Homo sapiens: one gene and its partners. The protein of the gene in region 1 interacts with the protein of each later gene in a biochemical or structural test. Each region holds a gene or a part of one and is shown in the gene's direction. Other genes may lie near its edges.

The links.
Region 2: the proteins of MAGI2 (region 1) and GOLT1A interact in a test that uses a peptide from one of them, tested with the Homo sapiens proteins (one large-scale study listed by IntAct).
Region 3: the proteins of MAGI2 (region 1) and CD226 interact in a test that uses a peptide from one of them, tested with the Homo sapiens proteins (one large-scale study listed by IntAct).
Region 4: the proteins of MAGI2 (region 1) and TMEM178B interact in a test that uses a peptide from one of them, tested with the Homo sapiens proteins (one large-scale study listed by IntAct).
Region 5: the proteins of MAGI2 (region 1) and SLCO2B1 interact in a test that uses a peptide from one of them, tested with the Homo sapiens proteins (one large-scale study listed by IntAct).
Region 6: the proteins of MAGI2 (region 1) and MAP7D2 interact in a test that uses a peptide from one of them, tested with the Homo sapiens proteins (one large-scale study listed by IntAct).
Region 7: the proteins of MAGI2 (region 1) and CLDN1 interact in a test that uses a peptide from one of them, tested with the Homo sapiens proteins (one large-scale study listed by IntAct).

What each region holds. Positions count from the first base shown.
Region 1 is NC_000007.14:78,257,168-78,260,667, reverse strand, and holds part of MAGI2 (membrane-associated guanylate kinase, WW and PDZ domain-containing protein 2), read left to right. Parts: intron 1-3,500. UniProt on the Homo sapiens protein: Seems to act as a scaffold molecule at synaptic junctions by assembling neurotransmitter receptors and cell adhesion proteins. Plays a role in nerve growth factor (NGF)-induced recruitment of RAPGEF2 to late endosomes and neurite outgrowth.
Region 2 is NC_000001.11:204,197,663-204,200,825, reverse strand, and holds the end of GOLT1A (vesicle transport protein GOT1A), read left to right. Parts: intron 1-1,567; coding exon 1,568-1,631; intron 1,632-2,329; coding exon 2,330-2,368; 3' UTR 2,369-2,487; coding exon of another isoform or gene 2,488-2,520; 3' UTR 2,521-2,663; downstream 2,664-3,163. UniProt on the Homo sapiens protein: May be involved in fusion of ER-derived transport vesicles with the Golgi complex.
Region 3 is NC_000018.10:69,864,374-69,867,873, reverse strand, and holds part of CD226 (CD226 antigen isoform a precursor), read left to right. Parts: exon of another isoform or gene 1-127; intron 128-462; coding exon 463-517; intron 518-3,434; coding exon 3,435-3,500.
Region 4 is NC_000007.14:141,072,721-141,076,863, forward strand, and holds the start of TMEM178B (transmembrane protein 178B precursor), read left to right. Parts: upstream 1-1,343; 5' UTR 1,344-1,590; coding exon 1,591-1,972; intron 1,973-4,143.
Region 5 is NC_000011.10:75,157,607-75,161,106, forward strand, and holds part of SLCO2B1 (solute carrier organic anion transporter family member 2B1), read left to right. Parts: intron 1-2,225; exon of another isoform or gene 2,226-2,323; intron 2,324-3,500. UniProt on the Homo sapiens protein: Mediates the Na(+)-independent transport of steroid sulfate conjugates and other specific organic anions.
Region 6 is NC_000023.11:20,012,408-20,015,907, reverse strand, and holds part of MAP7D2 (MAP7 domain-containing protein 2), read left to right. Parts: intron 1-580; coding exon 581-685; intron 686-2,282; coding exon 2,283-2,339; intron 2,340-2,775; coding exon 2,776-2,854; intron 2,855-3,372; coding exon 3,373-3,500. UniProt on the Homo sapiens protein: Microtubule-stabilizing protein that plays a role in the control of cell motility and neurite outgrowth via direct binding to the microtubule. Acts as a critical cofactor for kinesin transport.
Region 7 is NC_000003.12:190,308,947-190,312,446, reverse strand, and holds part of CLDN1 (claudin-1), read left to right. Parts: intron 1-2,193; coding exon 2,194-2,278; intron 2,279-3,500.

The sequences.
Region 1 (3,500 bases):
CTGAAGTGAATGACCATTTAGCAAACAAAGTAAATTTTCCAGCAATGTAGTAATGAAAATATATGCTTAGCTTTCAAAAGAAATGTATCTTCTTATTTTTATGGAGAAAAAATTTGATAAAATTATAAGTATTTTCACAAGGATGATCTCATTTTCACAGTAGCTCTGCAAAAGAGGAAATGTAAGAGATATTTTTATTCCCATTTTATAAAAGAAGAAATTGAGAGATGGGGAGATCAAGTGACTCTTCCAATTCTCCGTCTTAAGTAGGCCAACAGGTTAGAGCCAGAGCCAGTCTTCCTGATGATGTCCCTTTCTGTGCTCTTAAACCCAATCTGTCTGAGGACTTGGCATGGCACCGTCAGATGACATATACCAGGTGTCTTATATTTTTATTTCACGACATGTAAATGACATTCATACAGCACAGTCTATTAATATTCTATCCAATAAGTTCTATCTGAACAAGCAAATGTTTGCTGACATCCCCGTCTATAAGAGTTTTGGGCATGACTTATTATCTAGACATCTATATATTTTTTTAAAGTGGGCAGTTGAGTACCATCAAGTTGTTATATAGTTTTATCCTGTGATAACTGACCACTCATCTTTTACATTCAGAAATCTTCTACGTATCTTCATAAAGATATTGTTGCAGTGTTCTTTATCCTTGCCTGATGACTTGAAAAATTGCTGTTAGTGGAAAATATCCATAAATTGTAAAAGGCAGTCTTACTAAGAAACACAAATAGTTCTCACTCTGTTTCTAAATAGCAAGATCACATTAAAACTCAAAAATAGGTAACATTAATCACTACAATTCAAACTACTACTCTCTAGACCTGGCAGGGAAACTTGAGAGCTTTCAACATAACCCTTAGTTCTTTCCCGTGAAATTCTGGCAGAGCAGAGGGAAGGAGAGAGCGTGCTTGGGGACTGGGGAGTCTGTTAACAGTGATTAAAGTTAGGGAGAGCCTTAGAGGAAGTGGCATTTGTTACCTCTCTGACTTTTACTTGGCCATTCAGAAACCCATTGTTTCCACAATCATACTCAAGTCATCCTTGACTGTAACTGTGGTGGGAATATCTGGGTAGAACTGTCCTGATTTTATAGAAGAATATAACAAAGGACAAAGAGTAATTACTGAAATAGCAATCATCTTTTGCATAACAATTTACAGCTTAGAAACCCTTTCACCTGTATGATCTCATTCGTTATTTCCCATGGAACAATAAGTTGCTATTACTATTGTTCATCATTACTTCTAAAAAATCTGAGTCACAGAGGATTGAAGCCAGTTTGGGAAAGTTATACAGCTAATAAGTGATGAAACTAGAACTCAGACCAAAGTCTTTTGACCTCATATCCCATGTGATCTCTACTATACCTTGCAGCCTCCTGAACCTAAGAAGAATGTTGGAGCAAGAATGAAAGTAGACATAAAAAATAGTCAATGAGTTAAAAAAAACTCACTGAATAGGAAATTGAGGAAATGAGGCATACCCAAGAGAAAATCCAAAAGGCCAATAAACATGAAAAGATGCTCACCTTCACTGGCAGTCTGGGAAATGCAAATCAAAACTATGATCACATCCATTAGATTGGTAAAAATTAAGTCTGAGAATACGAAGTACTGTGTCAGATGTAAAGCAATGAAAATTTCAACACACTACCGATCAGAGTGTAAATCAATGTGACCTCTTTTGTCAGCCATTTGCCACTATCTAACAAAGTTGAAGATGCACATGGTCTGTGCCAGCATGGGGTTCATAGCAGAGTTATTTTCAATAGCCACAGATTTGTCATAACTCCGGTGTCCATTAACAAAAGAATGGATGAATGTTATTAAGTAGTAATATAGCCATCACTAAATACTGTATTACAATGAAAACTAATCAACTAGAGGCACAAGTATCAAAATAGATAAATATCACAAACATATTTTAAGAAAAGTTACAGAATATTAAAATATATACCATTTACAAAAGGCTTAAAATATGTAAAATACTTTCCAGGGATTATTATTATTTAGAGATTAGATACTATTTAGAGATATTGTTTTTACGGACACCTAGATATGATATAAATTATAAAGGTATATGTAAATAACAAACCTCAAATAGGGCAATGGTTACCTTGGAAAGGGCTGTAAAGGAGTGCAAGTTGGGGGAGAGGTGCTAGCCAAGGGGGATTCAACTAATATGAGCAATGTTCCAATCATTAAGTTGGATGTTAGTATACAAGTATTTGTTGTTCTTTCAACCTTTTAAATGTAGAAAATATAACATTAAAACTAAAAGAAACAGGAGAGAAAAATAGTCTATCTGAATCAGACACTTCTCTGGGACACTGAGATGAATGGAATCAATTAAAAACGATTCCCAAAGCATCCCCAGCTGCCACAGTCTGAAGAGGAATTATAATAACAGTGAGGGAATGTCCACTCCAATTCAGTTCTGAGCCGTGGACCCACGTTCCAGCCACCACATCAGTACCCTCTCTGATAGACATTATGGAAAAGTGAAGTTCCATCTGACCAATCACATAGGTTGTGACATTTTCTAGAGGCAGACCTAACCTGGATCCCTGAAAATGTCTGCTTGGCCTCTCTGTCAATTTGGGAAGAGGGACTGTTAATTAAGACAATGCTGTTAATTGTTTTATTCATTTTATGTTATACACCTACAAAAGACCAGAAAAGTTGTCAACTCTAAAAGTTCAACTCTGTTTTTCATTTTTAACGTTTGCAAGCTTGCTGGGCAAGGATGTCTCAGAATGAAATCCCTAGCCATTTGTACCTCCCATTCCAGAATTATTCTGATAAACTGATGTCTGTTGAGTTGCTTATTTCAAGATCTGTGAAAACATGTCTCTTCATCCCTAATATACTCCTCAGCATAGTCAGGCACAATCTCAATTTGCAAGCTCAATTTTCAAGTATTATGGTTTGTGAAGATAAAAATACCAATCCATGATAAAATAGTTCTCCAAAAATAAAATTGTTATTCATACATAATTGAAATTTTTAAAAAAACATTTATCTCAAACAGCCATGATTTTCTGCATTTTAAGCAGGAAAAAATATTTCTCTGAATATATTTTATAATGGATAATTTGCATTCAGAGCATTTCTAATCATAAAGTTAGCCTCTAACCAGTAGACCTCTGAAAATCTGTGATAGTTCACTGGGGAGAAAGGACAAGTGCCTTTATTGAAACTGATCCACAGAAATATTAGTTTATCTAAGATCAGAGGATGAACTGTGGCAACTTTCTGTTTGAAACCAAGGGACCCAAATCTCCTCCATCCTATTTTAACAACAATCATATTAATAATAGTCCACATTTATTGAGCACTGTGTGTCATACACTATGCCAAGTACTTTTCCTACATTATGTCATTTCATTCTCACAACTTTACAAATGAGGAACTGTGGCTCAAAGCAGGGAACTTGGTCAATATCATGTATCTGTTAAATAGTAGAGCCAAGGTGTCAAC
Region 2 (3,163 bases), on another chromosome or scaffold:
GGCTTCTGCAATCATGGAAAGGTGTGGGGCTCAGGAATCCCCAGGTTCTCACAGGAGCCCCCGTTTGCTGAAGGCAGCCCTGAAACCCCCTGATTAGCCTGAATGGCCTAGGCCTCAGAGACTTTGGGAAGTGTGGCTTTAAAGTTTCTCATGCATACCTGCCATCTATTTATTCCATATTCAAATATGTCATTTTATGGCTGGGTGCAGTGGCTCACACCTATAATCCCAGCACTTTGGGAGGCCGAGGCAGGCGGATCACTTGAGGTCAGGAGTTCGAGAACAGACTAGCCAACATAGTGAAACCCTGTTTCTACTAAAAATACAAAAAAAAATTAGCCAGGCTTGGTGGCAAGTGCCTGTAATCCCAGCTACTCGGGAGGCTGAGACACAAGAATTGCTTAAACGCAGGGGGCGAAGGTTGCAGTGAGACAAGATCACACCACTGCCTCCAGCCTGGGTGACAGACCGAGACTCTCTCTCTCAAAAAAAAAAAAACAAAAACATATATATATATATATATATACACATATATGTCATTTTCAAACAGTCGCTTATTCAAATTGTCAAATATATAATAAGCACCTACTGCATGCCAAATACAGGGCCAGGTGTGAGGATGTGGCACTGAATGAGGAGAAAGTTCCTAAGGAATTTACAATTTAGTAGGGAAGACCCATAAATAAATTCTGACAACAGTTAGCATTTATGGAGGGCTTAGAAAGTGGAGTGGGACAGCAGCAAATTCAATAGTTCAAACTGAAAGTCAGCCTTGACAAAGACACTGTGCAGTAACACAGGAGGCAAACAAATTACAGCTATCAGGGACCTCAGAGTGCAGTGAAACCTTGGAAAATTGAGGCCCACGGTAAGGAAGTGGCTCAGCCAGAATCCATATTTCAAATCTCCCTTCCCATCCGCCACACACCGGGATCCCTTCCCATGCCAGCCTTGGCACCTCCAAGCCCTGTGAGGGGTCACGCATGTGTCTGCAGTCAGGCCTTGGCAGGGTATCTTTGATGAGAGCAGGGTTGCCAAAGGCAGGGGTGGCTGTGTGCCTGGGGGAGCCAGGGCACCAGGGAGTGTAACGGTGAGCATGGCTTCCAACAGCCCCCGACGCCCAGGGCCCAGGACACCCGGGGCAGGTGGATCTCAGGAAGAGAAGAAAGCTTTAGGCCAGAAGAGTCATAATCATGAGAGTAACAATAATAAAAATAAGCACTTCCTGAGCATTTCTTTGTACGTGGCCTTATGATGTAGATACTGTTATTGTTAGCCACATTTTATGGCTGGAAATTGAGATTCAGAGAAGTTAAGGAATTTGCCCAAGTGTATATGGTGCCAGTAAGTGGTAGAGCCAAGAAGTGAACCCAAGGAGTGTGACCCTGGGGCCTTCATTCTTAATCATGTCACTCGACTGTCTCTCGGAACACAGGAGTGCAGAATCAAGCCTGTCCCTGGTGTGTGGAAGCCAGAGCTTGAACCTTTCAGTGGACCTCAGCCTCGTGCCCTCTATCCTCTCTTCCTGGGCCATCACTGACTCCTCCCTTCTCCCCTCTGCTCCTAGGGGCTTTTTCCCTGTCGCCTTCGGCTTCCTGGGCAATGTCTGCAACATCCCCTTCCTGGGTGCGGTAAGCAGATGATGCCTGCAGCCCTGCGGGCGTACCCTGGGGAGTGAGGGGGAGCACACGGAGGGGAGCTGGTAAAACTGCTGCCCCAGGGGCAGTGGCCTCTCCCCTGTCTCCCCTCAGACCCCCTAGCCCAGGTTTGGTGCTTTAGGCTCCTCTTCCCCCCGCACCTTCTCCATTTGACAAGAGCCCATGAGGAGAGGGGATCCAGACGCAGTTGTAGCTGAGTGTGGCTGTAGAGGCAGGTAGCTATGAATAGCTTCCTGTTTACAGCCAAAGAAATGAAGACGCAGAGACTCTAGGTGACTCAGCCAGGACATGCCTGAGATTTCTGGGGATCTGGCTAAGTGCGGGCCCCAGGCATGGAGAGAATGTATGACAGCTGATGACAGCAGGAAAAGCTGTCCTGCAGGTGGCAGATTTTGTCCTCTCCTGGGGATAGGCACAGCCACTGGTATCCAGCCCCTGCCCCTCCTTATCCCTTTCTCTGAAGCACCTGGCAGAATGTGAGCTCTCTGAGGAGCCCAGGGAGACCCTACAGCCAGCACCCCACCACAACCGCCAGCTGGACACAGCCCCTACAGCCCCTCTCGTATCTGCGCCTGGCACAGCTCCTGGCTCTCAAGGCCAGCTCTGTAATAACTAGATATTGCATCTGCTCTCTACCCTTTGTGTGGAGTAATGATTCTTGGCTCCCACAGCTGTTCCGGAGACTTCAAGGCACTAGCTCGATGGTCTGAAAAACAGAGATGAGCTCCTTGAACTTGGATCATTGGTTGAGGGGGCTAGAGGGAGAATGGGAACCACCCCCTCAGTCCCCTGCACTGACTCACTCCCCGACATATCCGGACCTCCCCAAGTCCAGAAGGAAGGAATGGAGCTGAGCAACTGACGTCAAATCCCCAAGTCGACTCAAGAGGCTGCCAGGAAGCAGAGATGCAGACCCCAAGGAGACTGGGCTGGGGCTGGTATCACACCCTCACTCTATATTTATGGGAGGAAAAGTGAAGATTAAATTCCCAAGTTGTGCGTGTGTCTAAGGCTCAGAGTTGGCGTCTTTGGCCGGGCGCGGTGGCTCACACCTATAATCCCAGCACTTTGGGAGGCTGAGGTGGGCAGATCACCTGAGGTCAGAACTTCGAGACCAGCCTGGCCAACATGGTGAAACCCCGTCTCTACTAAAAATACAAAAATTAGCGGGGCGTGGTGGCAGGTGCCTGTAGTTCCAGCTACTCAAAAGGCTGAGGCAGGAGGATCGCTTGAACCCAGGAGGCGGAGGTTGCAGTGAGCTGAGATCGCACCACTGGATTCCAGCCTGGGTGACAAAGCCAGACTCCGTCTCAAAAAAAAAAAAGTTAGCGTCTTCAGCCCATTAAGACCACCTCCTGCTTCAGGACAGGCCAACGTACACATCATCCCCACAGCGAAGTTTTGGTCTATGAGGGTCAGTGCTGTCCTCATAGGCTATCATTTCTGTCCTGGTGTTTAACAGCCCTAATGGGTGTGATAATAATATGTTTGCAATCCCCTGTTAA
Region 3 (3,500 bases), on another chromosome or scaffold:
GTGATTTAATAAAATAATCCATACGAGTGATTTAGAATAACACCCAAAAGATTTTATAAAGCTTCATTATATTGTCATCCAAGAAGTTACACTGCTGGCATTTAAAATAAATTTTAATTGTGGAAAATGTCTTAAATGTGAGGTTATTTGGAGAAAGCTATAAGTCATTTATGTAATAAGTCACTATAAATCATTCTTTAGTAAAATCACTGAGATTAATTACTAATGCACAGTGGTTAGATATCCATTTAGTTGCCCTCACCATCTGGGAGCAATTTGGAGAAGACAGGGAAAATGAAAAAAACTGTAGGGTAACAGAATTTTGGATAAATGTGCATAAAGCTACTTCAACATATTAGAAGGTGCATGTGGGCTAGGGGTACAGTGAGGTATAGAGTCTTCGAAATAATATTAGTACTGGAATATCATATCTTTATATCCTTTATTGAATATGCATTCCAGAAGGAGAAGGAGAGAGAGAAGAGATCTATTTACAGAGTCCTGGGATACACAGAAGGTAAGTTTATACGGAACTGTCATTTTTTTCTTTTGTAATTTACAGATGCAAAGTCAGTCTCTTTTGCAGTTAGCAATCTTATATTTTATTGTCCTTTCAGTAACCTGACCATGCAGTTGCCTGTAATTTAAATATCAGCTATTTGGAGAAAGTTATTTTCTGAACTATTCTATTTTTAATACCCTTTGAAACTAAGTTTTTTATATGAATATAAATAAAGGAGCAATTACCCTGGCGTAATAACAATCAACACTATGCCTTCCCTAAATCTTTGTTCCTTTTCTAGGGCTGCTGTGACAAATTACCAAAACGGGGTGGCTTAAAACAACAGAAATCTATTCTTCCATAATTCTGGAGGGTTGAAGTACAAGAAACAGTGTCAGAAGTACTGGTTTCTTCGTGGGATGAGAATCCATCCCATGCTTCTATCCAGCTTCTAGTGGAGCTGTCGATCCTTGGCTGGTAGACACATCGCTCCAATCTCTGCCCCTCTCATCACTGTTCTCAGCTGTGTGTGTGTGTCTGCCTTCCTTCTTTTCTTATGGAGACCCCAGTTATCTTGGACTTAAAGGCCCACCCCTCTCCAGCACAGCGTTGTTTGAGCTTAGCTAATTACAAGGATCCTATTTTCAAATGAGGTCACATTATGAGGTTCTGAGGAGGACATGAATTTGCAGGGGACAGTATCCAACCCAGGAGAGGACATAATATTTTTATGTCATAAGGTTATTGTGATGGTTAAATTGCATAAAAGAACCAGAAGCGTAGCAAGCACATAGAAGAACGTAATGATATTCATTATTATTATTATCTTTGGAGGTAAGTTATTAGTGTATACTTATACAACCAAAGAACTTTTTTATTTCCTTATGGGCTGCAGGAGTTTGATGAGCTGTAAAAGTTTCTTCCTTATTCTGCCTTGCTGCTGCCCCTTAGTGTTTAACTAAAAGACTAGAAACTTCCTTCTGGGTTTGCAGATAAGAGGGATATGTATTTTCATGCTCGTTATCCCCACTATACTTCAAATCTCTTCCTTTAATGCATAGCATCCTGTTTATGAAATTTCACAAAAAAAGTTGCTATGGATTGAACATTTATGTCTTCCCAACATTCATATGTTGAAATCCTAATGCCTAATGCGATGATATTAGGAGGTGGAGACTTTGGGATGTAATTAGATCATGAGGGTGGCGTCTTCGTGAATGGGATCAGTGCCTTTTTAAGGACAGAAGAGCTTGCTTCCTCTTTCTGCTCTTTGCAATGTGAGGATACTGAGAAGACAGTTGTCTGCAAACCAAGAAACAGGCCCGCAGGCCCTCACTGGACTCTTTTTTTTTTCTCAAGTTAGGAAAATATTTTCTTAATCTTGGACTTCCCAGCCTCCAGAACTGTGAGGAATAAGTGTTTGTGGTTTAAGCAACCCAGTCTACAGTATTTTGTTACAGCAGCCCAAACTAAGACAAAAAATTCCCCAATTCCTAGCCAAAAGTATATAAATTTCTTTTCATTTTAACTATTCGCAGTGGAATTCTACATGGCCACAAGCCAAGTACTAAAAAGGTTCTGACAATCCAACATGTGTTCATCAGATGCCTTCATAATTTATCAGTTTAACTTTTTATTTATTAAGTAGTTACTTTTGCAAAAAATATTTTTTTTGTTTGTTGGCAAAAAACATGGATTGCTTCTTGATGCCAACTGTAGAATCAAGAAACCTTGCTTTATTTCATCAGCCACTTCAGCAAGAAATAAATTGGTGCTCTGTCATACACAATTTTGGGATTCCCTTCTTCATCCTTAGCCTTTGTCTACTCATGCCAGTCTAGTCACATTTATTGTTGTGAATTTGGGGAATGAAAGGGAGCTTTGCAACGGTCTATATTAGGTATCCAACTTTTTCAGGTTTTTGTAGAATAATATTTTGAAGGATTATTAAAGAGTTAATAGGTTGGACTGTCAAAAAAAGACATTAGAACTACTTCATTCTCTTTTTTAAAAGATAACCTCTATAAGTAATCATGGCACTTGAATTTTCATTTTGCTTTCTTCTTAAAAACACTAACATCTGGCTGGTCATGGTGGCTCACGCTTGTAATCCCAACACTTTGGGAGGCTGAGGTGGGCGGATCGTCTGAGGTCAGGAGTTTGAGACCAGCCTGGCCAACATGGCGAAACTCCATCTCTACTAAAAATACAAAAATTAGCTGGGCGTGATGGTGCTTGCCTGTAATCCCAGCTACTCGTGAGGCTGAGGCAGAATTGCTTGAACCTGGGAGGTGGGGGTTGCAGTGAGCCTAGATTGCGCCACTGCACTCCAGCTTGGGCAACAGAGCGAGACTCTGACTCAAAAAAACCAACAACACTAAGGTCAATCTAAATTTTTAAATTACTCATCAAAAGACCTTTCTCTAGTTTCTTTTGTCTCTTAATTTGTCTTTCTTTTTTCACACCTGCATATTTTCTGTTACATACATACATATGTGGTCAAAGTGACTTGATTACGGTAGAGAAGATTAATGATTATACAATATCATCTTGATGTCAGTTTTGTTAACTTTTTATATGTTAAGTTGCTTATTTTTTAAAGTTCAGACACTGTGTTAGAATTTCCATATAAAAATGATAGTAATTGTTCTTATCAAAATAGCTTAACATTGGGAGAGGGAGTTCTACATTGAAACAGGTAATTCATAGCACAATACAGCAAGTATTAATCTAGACTAGATTTCTGTTGCATCTCAGTCAAGAATATGATTTCCAACAGAAGTTCAATACAATGAGAATGTTTTATCAAATTAATTATAATGGAAACTTGTCCCATATCATGCCTGCATTTATGAGAGGTATGTTTTGAATGTCTTCATTAGTTGTTGAAATGCAGTGAATTATTGACACTCTCTGCTGTTTGTCTTTCTAGGCACCCAATAACTATAGAAGTCCCATCTCTACCAGTCAACCTACCAATCAATCCATGGATGATACA
Region 4 (4,143 bases), about 63 Mb from region 1:
AGCCTGGGCTCTCGCGCCTCCCGGGCACCAGCCGAGCCTGCGAGGCCTCGGAGCCGCCGCGGCTAGAGGAGGAGGCGACGAGGGGAAGCCGAGTGACCCAGCCTCCCTCCCCCACCCTCTCCCCATTCATCTCGGCGACCACCGCGCGCCGGGAGCCGGATCGTGGGACGCCGAGGCCAGGACGGGATTCTCTGCACGCTGTCGAGTGAGCCGGCATCTCGGCGCCCGGGTGGGCTGCGAAGAAAATGGTGCAATCTGAGAGCGACTGAGCCCAGCTGGGCAGAGCAGACGGGGTGCCAGAGTGCCAAGGGCTCAGGTGCCTGGAGAAAGGGGCGGATTGTTTGGAGGGGCCGGGACCGGGGTTTTCTTCGGTGCCTGCGGCATTTTCTTTGCACCTGGGCGGCAGGCTCCCGGGGCTCCCGGGTGCCAGATGAAGTGAGGCGGAGGCGTCGCGGGAGAGCCGGGTCCGGAGGCGGTCGGGTGGACACTCCAGGCAGAAGACGGCGCTGGGAAGAGCTGCGTGACGCTCGGGGGCTGGCGGCTGGGCCGGCAGCGCGCCGTGGCGGCGTGACCTGTCCATGGTGTTGAAGGCGCGGTGGGCCGAGCCCCTAGCGCCGCGCGCAGTGAGCGCTGCCTGGTGCACCCTCCGCCGCGCAGCCCGCCCCTCGCGTCCGCCAGCAGCCGCCCAGTCTCCGCAGATCCCAGGCCGGGTCTCGTCCGGTAACGCCGCCCGGGTGAACACGCTGTCGGCCCGAGGGGCCGCCTGAATGGCGATGCCAGAGGCAGGGCACCGGGGAGCTCGCGGGGAAAGGTCGGCCGAGAGCGTGCGTCCGCGGGGAGTGCGCCTCTGAGCGCAGCACGCGGGTCAGAAGGAGCAACCGACCTGCTGGTGACCAGAGAACGGAGATTTTAAGAGGACCCGACCCAAAGAGGAAGAACATTTCTGGGTGCGCGCCCCAGGTCTTTGCTTGCAGACGGGGAGGGGGAGAGGCTCTGAGCCAGAGACCCAGGAGGGACTCCGAGAAGCCGGCCCCAGCACCTGGAGGTTTCTTTCGCCCGCCGGCCGCATCCGGGGCGTTCTACTTCACCCGGTGGTCCAGTGGCGCCTCCTGACAGCACCCCCCGTCCCCCTCAGAGAGACAGGCGAGTTCTGTCCCGTCACCATCCTGCACAAAGAAGCCCCACCGCAGCCGAGGACACTTGGCATTTAGTTTCCGGCCCGAGGGCAGCGGCGCCCGAAGCCGGGCTGGGAGCCGAGGCGGCTGCTTCGGGGCAGTCGCTTCCTGCGGGGCGGGGAGGGGGCGGGAGGCGGCCGCGCTGGGTTCGCCGCCGCCGGAGGCTGCACCTGCCTCAGAGGATGCCCAGGAGCCCGCGGGAGCCTCTCCGGATCAGAACTTTTTAGGCCGCCCGCCCCCATCCCCGCAGTCCCCGGGCCGTGCTCCGGTAGGCGGGGGCCGAGGGGGCGCCGCGGCGCGAGTCCCTCTCCTGCCCCCTCCCCCAGCTCGGCCGCCCGCCGCTTTGTTCCGGGTGCGGCGAGGGAAGGCGAGGCTGCGGCGGATCATGCCCATGGTGTAGCCGCCAAGCGGAGGCATGGCTGCCGGAAGGTTACTGCTCTACACTGGCCTCTCGCTAGCGCTCTGCGCCCTCGGCATGCTGGCCGTGGCCATCTGCTCGGACCACTGGTACGAGACGGACGCCAGGAAGCACAGGGACAGGTGCAAGGCCTTCAACACCCGCCGGGTCGACCCCGGCTTCATTTACAACAATAACAACAACTTGCCGCTCCGGGCGAGCCGCTCGCGCCTGGACCGCTGGGAGGGCAAACTCCTCCGGGCCCGGAATCGCCGGCAGCTGTTCGCCATGAGCCCCGCGGACGAGTGCAGCCGGCAGTACAACTCCACCAACATGGGCCTCTGGAGGAAGTGCCACCGGCAGGGCTTCGACCCCGAGATCGCCGCCCTCATTCGGAAAGGTAAGCGCCGGGCGCAAGGCGTGGCGCTGCGGAGAGCCCGGCGCCTTTAGGCCCCGCAGCCCCTCGCGTCTCCTTCCCAGGCCACAGGCTATCAGGTCTCTGGGTTCCAGGCGGTCCGGTTATCCAGGCCTGGCTGAGCCTCGGGGCCAGGACTTGCCTCCCAATAGCTGTTAATGAAGCTTGGTGCAGGCTTAACTCTCTCCCCTGCCTCTCCTTTCGCGCGTCTCTGTCGGGATTCGAGTGGAACCTCATGGTCCAGGGTTCTTATCCAGGATAATGCTTCATCAGCCTCTGAGAAGAAGGGAATCTGGAACGTTGTTTGTGCTCTTAAAGGAAGCCCTTTAGGAGTCATGTGTCAGGGGTAGACAGGTTCCTAATTTTTGTTGAACTGATTTAATCAAGGAAAATTGGGGGAAACATTTCACAGAGAAGGCCTTATTCATACCAGAAACGTTTGCTGAGCGCTATACTATACCAGATATGGTGTAGGCACTGGTCATATAAACATCAATAAATCACAGCCCCTGTCCTGTAAGCAGCTCCAAGCCAGCTGACCAGCAGCATCATATCACAATTCTTTATGTCTCCTTCTGAAACAGTGGTTGACTGTAGTGACTTCTGTGCATCGAATATCAACAAGGTCTAATAAGTAAAAAAAAAATAGTTCTTTCAGTAACATCAAAGTGGGCATGTCAGAGAAAAAAAATAAGATTTTCAGAAAATGTATATAAAAATTCCCAAAGTGTATGTCAAAACACAAAACAAGCTGCATTTGCTAATGATAAAAATTTATTTGATACTTTAATATGATCACATTACTTAAAAAATTCTGCTTATCGGATGGAATTTGTAAACCTTGTATGATTTATACTTTGGGAACCATCCTGTTGTCAACCCACTGGAATATTGTTTGAATGTGTATTAAAACTGCTCTGAAGAAAGGAATATGTTCTCTTCTATGGTAGCTACATCCTAGGAAGATGTGCAGATTTTATGAGTCTGGTTTTTTTCCCCTTGTGTTTCATTCTCTTTAACTATTAAATGGTGATGTCAAGGTGACAAAGATACTATTATTTGCAAAGTTTTTAAGGCCAAGATATAAAAGCAGTTCTTAGTGTCTCATTATAATGCTGTGAGGTTTGCTGCTGTATTAAAATAATATTTATGAGAACTGATGTTCTTTGATGGATACAAGTGTGCAATTGATCAGAAAAAATTGTTAATTTGCAAAAAAGTCAAGTGTTTAAGAATGACAAGCAGTGGGTCTGGTCTAGGTGGCCAGGTCAGATTTAGGTGAGGTGGCTTCAGAGACAGAATCTATCTGTTTGTTTTATAGCTTCTTTAGAATGACTAGGGATTTTAGCTGATTTTGTTATTGGTGTGTTAATACAACCAATATCCCATTTGCTTCACAATTGGGTTCTTATTGGAACAAGGTGACCCATTTGGAGCACTACCACTTTGTAAAGATGTACAGAATATTAGGGGAGTCCAGAAGAGACCAACTTGGGTTTGGCTGCCAAGGCAGGAAAACAAGAGGGCCTAGAATAGTTTTTGACAATGAGTGACCTTATAACAGTTTTGAGATTCTCAGATTTATAAAGTGTTATTTTATCCATGATTTTCTGCTTTCTTTAAAATTGAAATGAGAGGAAGTTAGCTGAAATGTGAGGGAGAATTCATGTTAATAATGAACAGCAAACACTGGGAGAATTTGTTGAAGGATATTCTTACTTTTCCTTCCTTGAATGCCTTCTAGAATAAGAGAGGTATCCCTTCTTGTGTTGGTTAACCCCACTTAGAGAAAGGGGGATGGAATTCATGGTTTCTGGCGGTTCCATTCAGAGCTTTGATTCCCTGTTGCTCTGCTTGGCAGTCTGACTAGAAAGGTTGACTTGGTCTGTGCACTGGAGGGGTTGGTTGCCATAGTGACATGTTCTTCCGGTGAAGCTGGAAACAGAGACAGGGAAAGGGATAGGGGAAGAATGTACAACATTTTGATTTTGTATCGACTGATTTTTAATTGCAGCAACAGAAAATGGACATGGCACAGCAGGGGTATTGAATACACTGATACCTAGAGTTGGCAGGGCATTGTATTTCACTTGAACTAATGGAAATGGTGTTCCCCATCGCCCAAAATACAGCAATCACTGTCAGCGGCAAGCACC
Region 5 (3,500 bases), on another chromosome or scaffold:
GCTTGAATATTTATCAGGAAAAGAGAGCAAGGGCCACCTATATGCCAGGCCAGCTGCCCCAAAGGCCTTACCTCTTTGAGGTCGTATAGAGGAGAAGAGATTTCTTGTCCTCACTCTTTGCTAGGCTGGTGGCTGAGGTCCCTATAACAAAAGACAGCTTAACAGGAGAAAAGCATACAAATTTATTTGGCTTTTAAAAATTTAATTTACTTATTATTATTTTTACATAGAGATGGGGTATCACCATGTCACCCAGGCTACTCTGGAACTACTGGGCTTGGTAATTCTCCCACCTCGGCCTCCCAAAGTGTTGGAATTACAGGCGTGAGCCACTGCGCCTGGCCCAAATTTATTTAATATAAGTTTTACATGACACAGGGGCCTTCAGAAATGAAGACCCAAAGAAATGGGAAAACGTGTGTATTCTTAAACTTTTTAGTTTTTATTATATTGAATTAAATTAAATTATTTATTTATTTATTTTTTGAGACAGGGTCTCACGCTGTCGCCCAGGCTGGAGTGCAGTGGCATGATCTCGGCTCACTGCAACCTCTGACTCCCAGGCTCAAGTGATCCTCTTGCCTCGGCCTCCCGAGTAGCTGGGATTACAGGCATGCACCACCACACCTGGCTAATTTTTTGCATTTGTAGTACAGATGAGGTTTCACCATGTTGCCCAGGCTGGTTTATTATTTTTTAATCATCTAGCCTAAAATGTCAAAAACTTGTGACTTTTTATGCCAAGTTTGATGAAGAAGTATATAGTTGTGGAAGTATTGCACAAAGAGTGTGTGAGCTAATGGTGATACACTTAGGGGAACCTAGCAAGGCCTGTTTGTTCAGATTCTTCTCTGTGTCCTTGCATCTTCAAAGTTAAGGCTGTTTTTTTTTTCTCCAGGTACAAAGACAGCAACTCTCAAATGAGAATCTTATGACCTATTTCAGGGTGAAAGGTGGGAGAAGGTCAGAGTGGGGTGACTATCCTAGGTTTTATGACCTGCTTCTACTGTTTTCTCAAATGTGGCCAAGGTGCCATATTTGGAGAATAGTGTGTCCTGAATTCCATCAGTAAATACTGTTATATTCACCTTACAAATGGGGAAACTGAGGCTCAGAAAGCTCAGGGATGTGCCCAGGCTCACACAGTGGGCTTGTAGCACATCTGGGATTCCAACCCAGGTCTGAGGCCTTAAAGCCTATTCTCAGCCTCACATTTCCCTGAGATCTGTCCTTTGCTGCTGGGAGGCAGCCAAAGGAGGCAGAATCCTGGGCCTTTCCCACAGAGAACAGGTAAAGGAAGGCGGTCCTTGCAGTCAGGCTGGTCTCTGAAACCTTGCTCCTCATCACCCAGACTCAGGTGGTGTGGAGAAGGCTGACTCTACCCATGAAGGGCAGCCCCTTGAAGGGTGAGTCTCTGACTGACCAGATACCTGGGAAACGAAGTTTGTGGCTGACAGACTTTCAGGAACTTGTCTGACTGTCTTATGAGGAGCTGCAGGCAGGTGGCTGACTGACGGCCTGAACGGACAGCTCTCCTGAAAGACAGTAGCCCGCCGGCTGGCTGGCTTACCAGCAGGTGGACACGATGTGCCTGCATGAGTGATCAGCCAAGTGACCGACTGACAGTCAGACACACAGACCCATTGCGGGCCAGCTCGGGCTGTGGGTCCCTAGCCCCTGGAGCCACCTGGCCTACCTGGGACCCCAAAACTTAGCTGCCCACCTGGGAGAGAGAGGGACTGGGTTTTTTAAACTAGGGCCTGGCTCTCTGCCCCAGGTCCCTTCATTCCCGCAGGCAACCGCCTGCCCAGCCCAGGTTCAGTCCCATGGCCGTCCCATCCTCCTGTCAGGGGTGGCCCCTGACAAAGGCCCCACAGCACAGGGCAGGGTCTCAGTGCCCTTCCACAGGAGGACACGCAGTCCTGGACTGGACCATCCTTCCAAGGGGAGTTCCGCCCTGAGTCAGGGAGGCGAAGGTTTGCTGTCAGCGCGTCAGCAGAGACCCCAGCCCACAGGAAAGGCTCGGAGGGGGTGGGCAGCCTGCCTGACAAGCCCCATTCAGTGACCAGCTGACCCCCAATACATGACTCGTGCTCCTCTCAGAACCCGGAGGAATGTGGCCAGTGCTTCCCTCCCCTGCCCAGAGGCACAGGCTGTGGACTTTGCCCTCCACAAACAGCCATATCTCTAAAGGATAAAGTACTCCCAGGAAGGCTTTGAGCCTTGGCAGAAAAGGCTGGGATTGAAGCTTCAGGGAGAGCCAGAGGTGAGGCTGGAGTGGGAGATCACCTGAGGCAGGTGAGCAGGCTCCATGAGTGGGCAGGTGAGAGGCCAGGGGGCTGGAACTGGGGCTAGACAGGCTGGGGCACAGCAAGGATGCCACCAGTATACCCAGGAAGCTAAGTGGAGGGTCCAGGGTCTGGCCTGGAGGCGGGGGCCTCACATTCTGAGCTGGCCCACAGGCTTCCACCCCTCTCCCCCATCCATTCCTTGGGTTTCCTTCAGAGCTGGGGCTCCAGGTCAAGGACTTCTGCTCCCAGCCTCAGCTCCCGCTCTCTCACCTGGTTGGCTTGGCCCCTTGGTGGACTGGCACTGCTACCTATGAAGTGACTTGGCTAGGTTTGGGTGGGCCAAGACAGAGAAAAGCACTGTGCTTCTTCCCCCTGTCAAACTTGTACAAGGAGCATTGAGTGATGTTGAGTTTAACACTTACCTGGGCTTGAGTCCTGGGACCAATGCTAACCAGCAAAGCTAGTTCCTCTGAGCCTGGGTGTCCTTATCAGAAGCATAGAGATAATAAGACACCAAAGGGACGGAGCTGTGGAGAGGGTTCATGGGCCAGTGCACAGAAAGCCTGTGGCATGGAGCCCAGACTACAGCAGGAAACCCACTGCGGCTGGTGAGAGGAGCTGAGGCTCAGAAATGGTCCCCTCCACCTCCTCTGGGAGCCTTTGCTTTGAACTGCCTTATTTCCTCCTTGCCTTTAAAGTGACTCCCACTGAGTGTCCCATGACACTCCTCTTCCCTAGGCCAATTTCCCGTCTCCTCGTCAGGTGTCAGTTTTGTTTCAACAGTTCCTTGCTTCCTCTGAGTGTTTATGCCCCGCAGAGGGACTCCTCCCTAGCCACACGCACTTCCATTTCCTCAGCCAAATTCCTCAACCTGTTTGTATAGACATTTCTCCAAAGCAAGATATACAAATGGCAGTAGGCACATGAAAAGATGCTCAATATCATTAGTCATTAGAAAAATGCAAACCAAAACCACACTGAGATACCACCTCTACCCTATGAGGATGGCTATAATTGAAAAGGCAGACAATGAAAGTATTAGCAAAGATGTAGAGAAATTGGGACATTGCTGGAGGGAGTGTAAAATGGTGTTGCCACTGTGGAAAATGGTTTGGCAGTTCCTCACATGGTTAAACATAGCATTATTGTATATGAACATATGACCCAGCAATTCCGCTCCTAGGTGTACACCCAAGAGAATTGAAAATG
Region 6 (3,500 bases), on another chromosome or scaffold:
GGGTTTCCCCAAAGGCAAACCCTGGGCTAAGAATTTGAGTGCCAGCAGTTTTTTTTGCAAGCGAATCCCAGGAAGCTGGTAGAGGAATAGGAGAAAAGCCAATGTAAGTGCATTGATGCATGTGTTACTGTGGGTGACTGGAACACAGTCCCATTGGGAACCTCTGACAGACTGTGGATCATGCTTTAGAATTGTCCAGCTGAGGGATGAGGAAACTGAACTACTTATCTACCACATCCTGCCCTTCACGGTAGTAGAAGGTCACTCCCTGGGGAATTAACTCTCTGATCTGGCCACATGCACACTTCATGGCCCAAGCCTGCCCACAGACACAGAAAAGCCTTGGCCATGTGTGAGAACTGTCTGCAGGTGATTTGCATGGTGAGCCAGGGGTATATGAATGAGGTCCAACCATGTTTGCTGTGTCATGCAGTGGTTTGTATAAATCCACATTGAATATTGGAGCAGCATCCACTTTAGGGCAGATGATGAGATGAAGGAACATGTGCAAAGCCAGGGAATTACCACACTGTTTTCTTAGCTTATTAAAGCTTTGCCTTGATTTACCTGTTTCTGTTAGAAAGAAGCAGCAGAAACAAAGGCCCGGGAGGTAGCTGAACAGATGCGTCTCGAGAGAGAACAGATTATGCTGCAGATTGAGCAGGAGAGACTGGAGAGAAAGAAGGTAAGGGCTGAGGGTCAGGAAGACCTAGGGTAAGTGAACAGGAAGTAAATCCAGTTCTCTTCTGCAGTGATTGGATAGAATGATCCTAGGATTGTCAGTTAGGTCAAGTTCATTGATACCACTGTTCAAATCTTTTATGTCTTTATTAGTTTTTTGCCATCTCGTTCCATCAGTGATTGAGAAAGATTGTTAAAAACTCCATCTGTAGCGAGGCATGGTGGCTCACACCTGTAATCCCAGCATTTAGGGAGGCAGAGGCGGGAGGATCACTTGAGCCCAGAAGTTCCAGACCAGCTTGAGTAATACAGTGAAACCCTGTCTCTACTAAAAATACAAAAAATAGCTGGGTGTGATGGCATGTGTCTGTAGTCCCAGCTACGTAGGAGGTTGAGGTGGGAAGATGACCTGAACTCGGGAAGTTAAGCCTGCAGTGAGCCGAGATCATGCCACTGCAGTCCAGCCTGGGGAACAGGAGTGAGACCCTGTCCCAAATAATAGAAAAAAGAATAACTCCATCTGTGATTATGGATTTGTCCATTTTTCCTTTCAGTTCTGTCAGGTTTTGTTTTATATATATTTATCGTGATATGCCTTTGTCTCTAGTGATATTTCTTGTCTTAAAGTCTACTTTGACAGCCCCCTGCCTTTTATTTTTTTGAGACAGTCTCACTCTATTGCCCATGCTGGAGTGCAGTGGTGTGATCTCGGCTCACCACAACCTCCACCTCCCAGGTTCAAGCGATTCTCCTGCCTCAGCCTCCCAACTAGCTGGGATTACAGGCGCACACCACCACACCTGGCTAATTTTTGTATTTTTAGTAGAGATGGGATTTCACCATGTTGGCCAGGCTGGTCTCGAACTCCTGGACTCAAGGGATCCTCCTGCCTCGGCCTTCCAAAGTGCTGGGATTATAGACGTGAGCCACTGTGCTTGGCCTGACAGCCCTTTTATGATTAGTGTCTGTATGTCAAATCTTTTTCACCCTTCTACTTAAAACTTCTTCTGTGTGTTTTTATAAGTAAAGAGCATATAGCCAGGAATTGTTATTTTAATTCTGTTTGACAGTCTTTGTCTTTTAATTGGAGTGTTTAGTCCATTTACACTAACTATACTTATGGGTAAAATTGGGTTTAAGCAGACTGATTATAAAGGAGTATTCTCATGGTGTCCTAGGCCCAACCTGGGCTTTGTATTGCTGTAGGCCTGGGATCCAGGAGACCAGCCTGTGGCCTTCTCTCCTGAGATGCACCTCAGCCTCAGCCTCACTTTCTGTAGGGTGGTGCTCTTTAATGGCAGGTGGTAATTTGTTGATTTATACAGAGCCTAAGGAGAAGAAGGAGAAATATGGGATATAAATCGAATATTGATTCTAGATACGTACTAGTTAACTTCTCAAGCATTTGACCTTGTCCATGGGGCCGGAGGTGTACATCTCCAAAACTAGTGGAAAACCTTTCTATACTTGTTATCCTCTTCTGACTTTTGCCTTTTACAAGTTTTCTGAGAAATGTGACATTGCATGTAAACCAAGCTACTTTTATGTTTTTGGTCTTATTGTCCTCTTACTTGATTTTGTTTTTTGTTTTTTGTTTTTAGAGAATAGATGAAATCATGAAGAGAACAAGGAAAAGTGATGTGTCTCCACAAGTGAAGGTAGGAATTCAAATGACCATTTTAATAGTTTATGTACTAAGTAGAAAAGAACAGCAGAATACACTCAGTGAAATTGTAGGTCTTGGCGACGATTAGCCAGAAAAAAATGCAGTTTTCCTGCTTTGTTCCTGGCTAGGTTAAGGAGGGTTAGGTACCTGAAAAGAAAGAGGGGCTTCAGAGGTGGGATGGGTAAGAGATTTCCTTAGAGTCATGGGAGGTGGGATGAAGAGAGAGGCATAGTAGTCCATGAATAAAAAAGAGAATCCTGACATAAAAATACGTAAGAATAAGGGAAACACAGCTGAAGATTTAAAGAATTACCACAGAACAGGCAGATGGTCCAGGCTCAAAATATCATCGGATGCTTTTAAAAAGTACTTTTTTTCTGTGTGATGTCAGCCTTCCCTCATTTCATTCACCTTCCATTTGTTTTCAGAAAGAAGACCCCAAAGTGGGGGTCCAGCCTGCTGTGTGTGTGGAAAAGAAGACAAAACTGGTTGTCCCCAACAAAATGGGTGAGTGTGACATCTGGTTCTTGGGTTCTTCCTTTTAGTAGCAAAAGCTCGTAAGACTTGGTGTAGGGTAAACAGACCCATGGATCCCAAGAGGGTGACTGCTGGCAGGGGCCTGTGCAGTTTCCCTTCCCTGGGAATGTGTCTCCAGCACAGGGACTGTCAGCTCCACTTGGGAACCCACTGGGTTCCTTGGTTACTCCCATAATCCCAGCATAGGAGGCACTCTGGCTGCTGGCTCACAGTGCTTTCCAGGGAGCTTAACTGCTGGTCAGGTTTTATTACTGTTAGGACCTGACTCTGCTCTTCTCCAGAGGTTCTGCACAGACACTGATAATGTGATTTGTCTTCTCTTCTCCTGTGTGAAGGTGATTATATGGGTTTATTTGTGGCTCTTTCCACAAAAGATGCTGCAGTATCAGTGAAGCAGAGCATTAAATTAATTGCCTTGATCTATATTTCTCTGTTACTTTATTTAGACATTTTATGATTAACACAAGGGACTTTGTGTTCTCGATCAGAAATCAATGGATTGAACACCTGCCAGGAAGTTAATGGTGTGGATCACGCTGCCCCAGAAACTTATCCCCAAGACATTTTCTCTAATGGGCTTAAGCCAGCTGGGGGACTCATTCATCTGGATGCCCTT
Region 7 (3,500 bases), on another chromosome or scaffold:
GAAAAATAAGGATAGCATTCCAGCTGGGCAGATCTAATTCGAGAATAAACAGGATGTGCCTGTAGATCAATGAAAAGAAAGGCCAACTGGAGTAGAGGTGGCCTGTTGGAATGGTCAGTTTAAAGCAGTTAGGAAAAAAAAAATACAGAAATACCTTTAAATTTTTTTGATAAAATAATATTATATTTTCCATTTAAAATAAATACGTGTTTTTTAGGCCAGGTGTGGTGGTTCACGCCTGTAATCCCAGCACTTTTGGAGGCTGAGGAGGGCGGATCACCTGAGGTCGTGAGTTCAAGACCAGCCTGGCCAACATGGTGAAACCCCATCTCTACTGAAAACACAAAAATTAGCTGGGTGTGGTGGTGCACGCCTGTAATCCCATATACTCCAGAGGCTGAGGCATGAGAATCACCTCAACTCGGGAGCCGAGATCGCACCACTGCACTCCAGCCTAAGCAACAGAAGACTGTCTAAAAAAAAAAGAAAAAAGAAAAGAAAAGAAATATCTGTTTTTTAATTCAAGTGTTGATTGATAAGTTACATTATGTGTCATTTGAGAAAATCAAAGTCAGAAAACATGGACAGCATTATTTCAAAGCTTTATAATAATGCCTATTTAAAAAATTATAGTGTATGTATACTTACGTGTGTATATGTACATACATATGCAATCTCTCTGTGTGTATATATATATCTTTATATCTATACACTGTGTTATATATGTTGATAATCTCCATATAAATTATACAGCTATAATAATAGACTACTATATGTTCTCTATATTAGGTATTAGATGCATATATTATATATGTAGTATATTATAGTATATTATTTTAAAAAAATAACAGATATAATTAATGATACAAATCTACTAATAGAAAAAAACTAGAATAGACTTTATTTTCTTATTTTCTTTTTGACAGAAGACTTGTAGGGGCTTTTGCTTCAGTATAATATGTCAGTTTAACCAGTAATTGAGGAAGAGTATCTGTGGCTTTGCTAAAGATGTGGTTAGTTTAAAATGACCAGTCTCTCAGTTTACCCAAATACAAATTGACTCCTCTCTGAAAAGGCATGGATAGTGTCTTATTCCCAATAATTTACTCTTATATCAAAGGCTGCGAATAGTAATCTTTGTGGCCATCGTGGCATGAAGTGTATGAAGTGCTTGGAAGACGATGAGGATGAAATGCATTGCATTCTTCCTTCGCTTGCCTTCTTGTAACTCCCACATGTGACTGCATCACTCCTATTCCAGTTTCAGGGACTTCTCTTAGGAGTAAGCATCACAAGTTCAAGACCATTCGCATGGTCTATTTGAGAAGCCAAAAGCAATAGTGTTTTCTGTCATGTCTAGAGGCAATTACATTGGACCATGTTTTTGGCTGGGGAGAGACAGTAGCATAGAAACATCTAATCTATCTATATTGATGAATACTTAGAATTACTACAAAAAAGTTATTTAACTTTTTTGATAAAAAAATGAAGTATTTTATACATCTTATAAATGATTAAGTGAATGATTTTGACTAAATGATTTCTCTGCTATCATTGAATATAAAATGCCATGGGAAATTGAGATTGGGTTGCATAAATTGATCTGATGTGGCACCCTCAACAAATCTCAGGCCAACCTATACCTATATCAGGTATTCCCTTGGCCAATGGGGCAGTAGTAATGCAGGTATTCTGGTCCATTCTGAGACATGTCCTGATCTCACTCTATCTAGCTGCTTGCATTCCTTTTGACTCTGCAGAAATGTAAATTTTGAGTTTGATCAAGAACATAGAAGAGTTTTCATCTTCCCCTTTTGCAAGTAATTCTACCTGTACTAATAATGACAATAGTTTTATCAAATGTAGTTTAGTATCCTAATGTATAACAGCATATTTAAAAGAGATTTTGTACAACATACACCTGCCTAATTGTTTCCAAAAAAGAATTATTTGTGCCAAGATATCATAAAAAAGTATAAATTTTGTCTAATGCCAACCTAGTATTTTTTTATATTTTAATAGATACTTGGAATAAATCATATCTGGACTTCTAATCTCCCTAATACCAAAATAAAAATGTCAACACTATTGATGAGATTTAATTCTTGCAAAATATGTTTTGGTTTAACAGGTTGTGTATTTAGGCTCAGTGTTCCATGGTGATTAACAGTCTTTTGTTTTGAATTTCTATAGGTCTGGCTATTTTAGTTGCCACAGCATGGTATGGCAATAGAATCGTTCAAGAATTCTATGACCCTATGACCCCAGTCAATGCCAGGTAACGCTATTCAGGCGTAAAATAGTTTGTTTTCTGAGAAAATGCCCTTTTTATATTCTACAAAGTCCTGCTAGTGCCATCATTTCCCAGATTTGCTTTCAAGAATTTTATGTCAAACCTACAAACAATTTAAATGATCTCTGACTTATGTCAAAATGAGTTTGATAATTGCTTTAACACCCTGTATTGATGACAAAATACCTTCCAAAGTAGAAAAGTTTCAAGCTCTGTGCTTTTCAACTGTATAACTGGGCTTTCTTTTGTTTGTTTTTTCAAATATTAATAAAGATGTTAATATATTTGAAATTTCCTTTTTGAAGTGTATTCTGATGTTTACAACACCTACCTAAGATTATTTGTAACTAATGCACAGTTTATGATTGATTGAGAAAAATTATACTACTATAGGGGTTAATGAATAATACTTCATTCCCAACAGTTCATTTTTACACGTAAAGCTATTATGTATGTTTTTAGTATGTTCAGATACCACCTTGAAATTTTTTGTTCTTTCACAACTGTAAAATTGGCTTTACAAAGGTCATCTTTCTTAATACTGCAGGTTGTGCAAGTTGAGCTGATTCTTAGCTCTCGTGTAACAACATTCTTTAATCAGAGACGAGGCTCTTCATCTCACTGTCTTCACATCTTTAATGCCTAATAACTACATTCAGTCAGGATGTTAAAATATAATTATTGTTTGTTGAGTGCTTAGATGAATGGATGAAAAACCTCAGTGTTTGGAGAGATAAGATGTGTTTCTTTTTATATAATCACCCACATATGGGAGAACACATACTGCAATGGTTGTGTTGGAGCCCATCCCATAAGATTTACAGTGTAAGAATAGAAACTGCTAGAGGTCAGTAGGCTAAAATTTCGCCAAGGTAATAACACCAGTAATGCACAGGAAAGCACTTTATAAATTGCCAGCCATTTTGCAATTGTTATTTACATTATTGCATGTGATCCTAAAAGCAGTCTATTGAGGCAGGTGGGATTATCCTGCTTTGAGAGTAGGAGAAACTGAGGCTGAGAGGTGAAGTTGCTATCCCAGAATTGCAGCAGTTGAGAGTCTGCATCAGGATTTAGACTTGGCCTTATAACTTATAGAACCAACCCTTCTCTACTCTTCCGTATTGTCCATAATCACTCACAGATACCCCACCCTAAGTGTCTGCTTTAATACATCTGCCTGGATCAGCTTAATCCAGAATGGTTC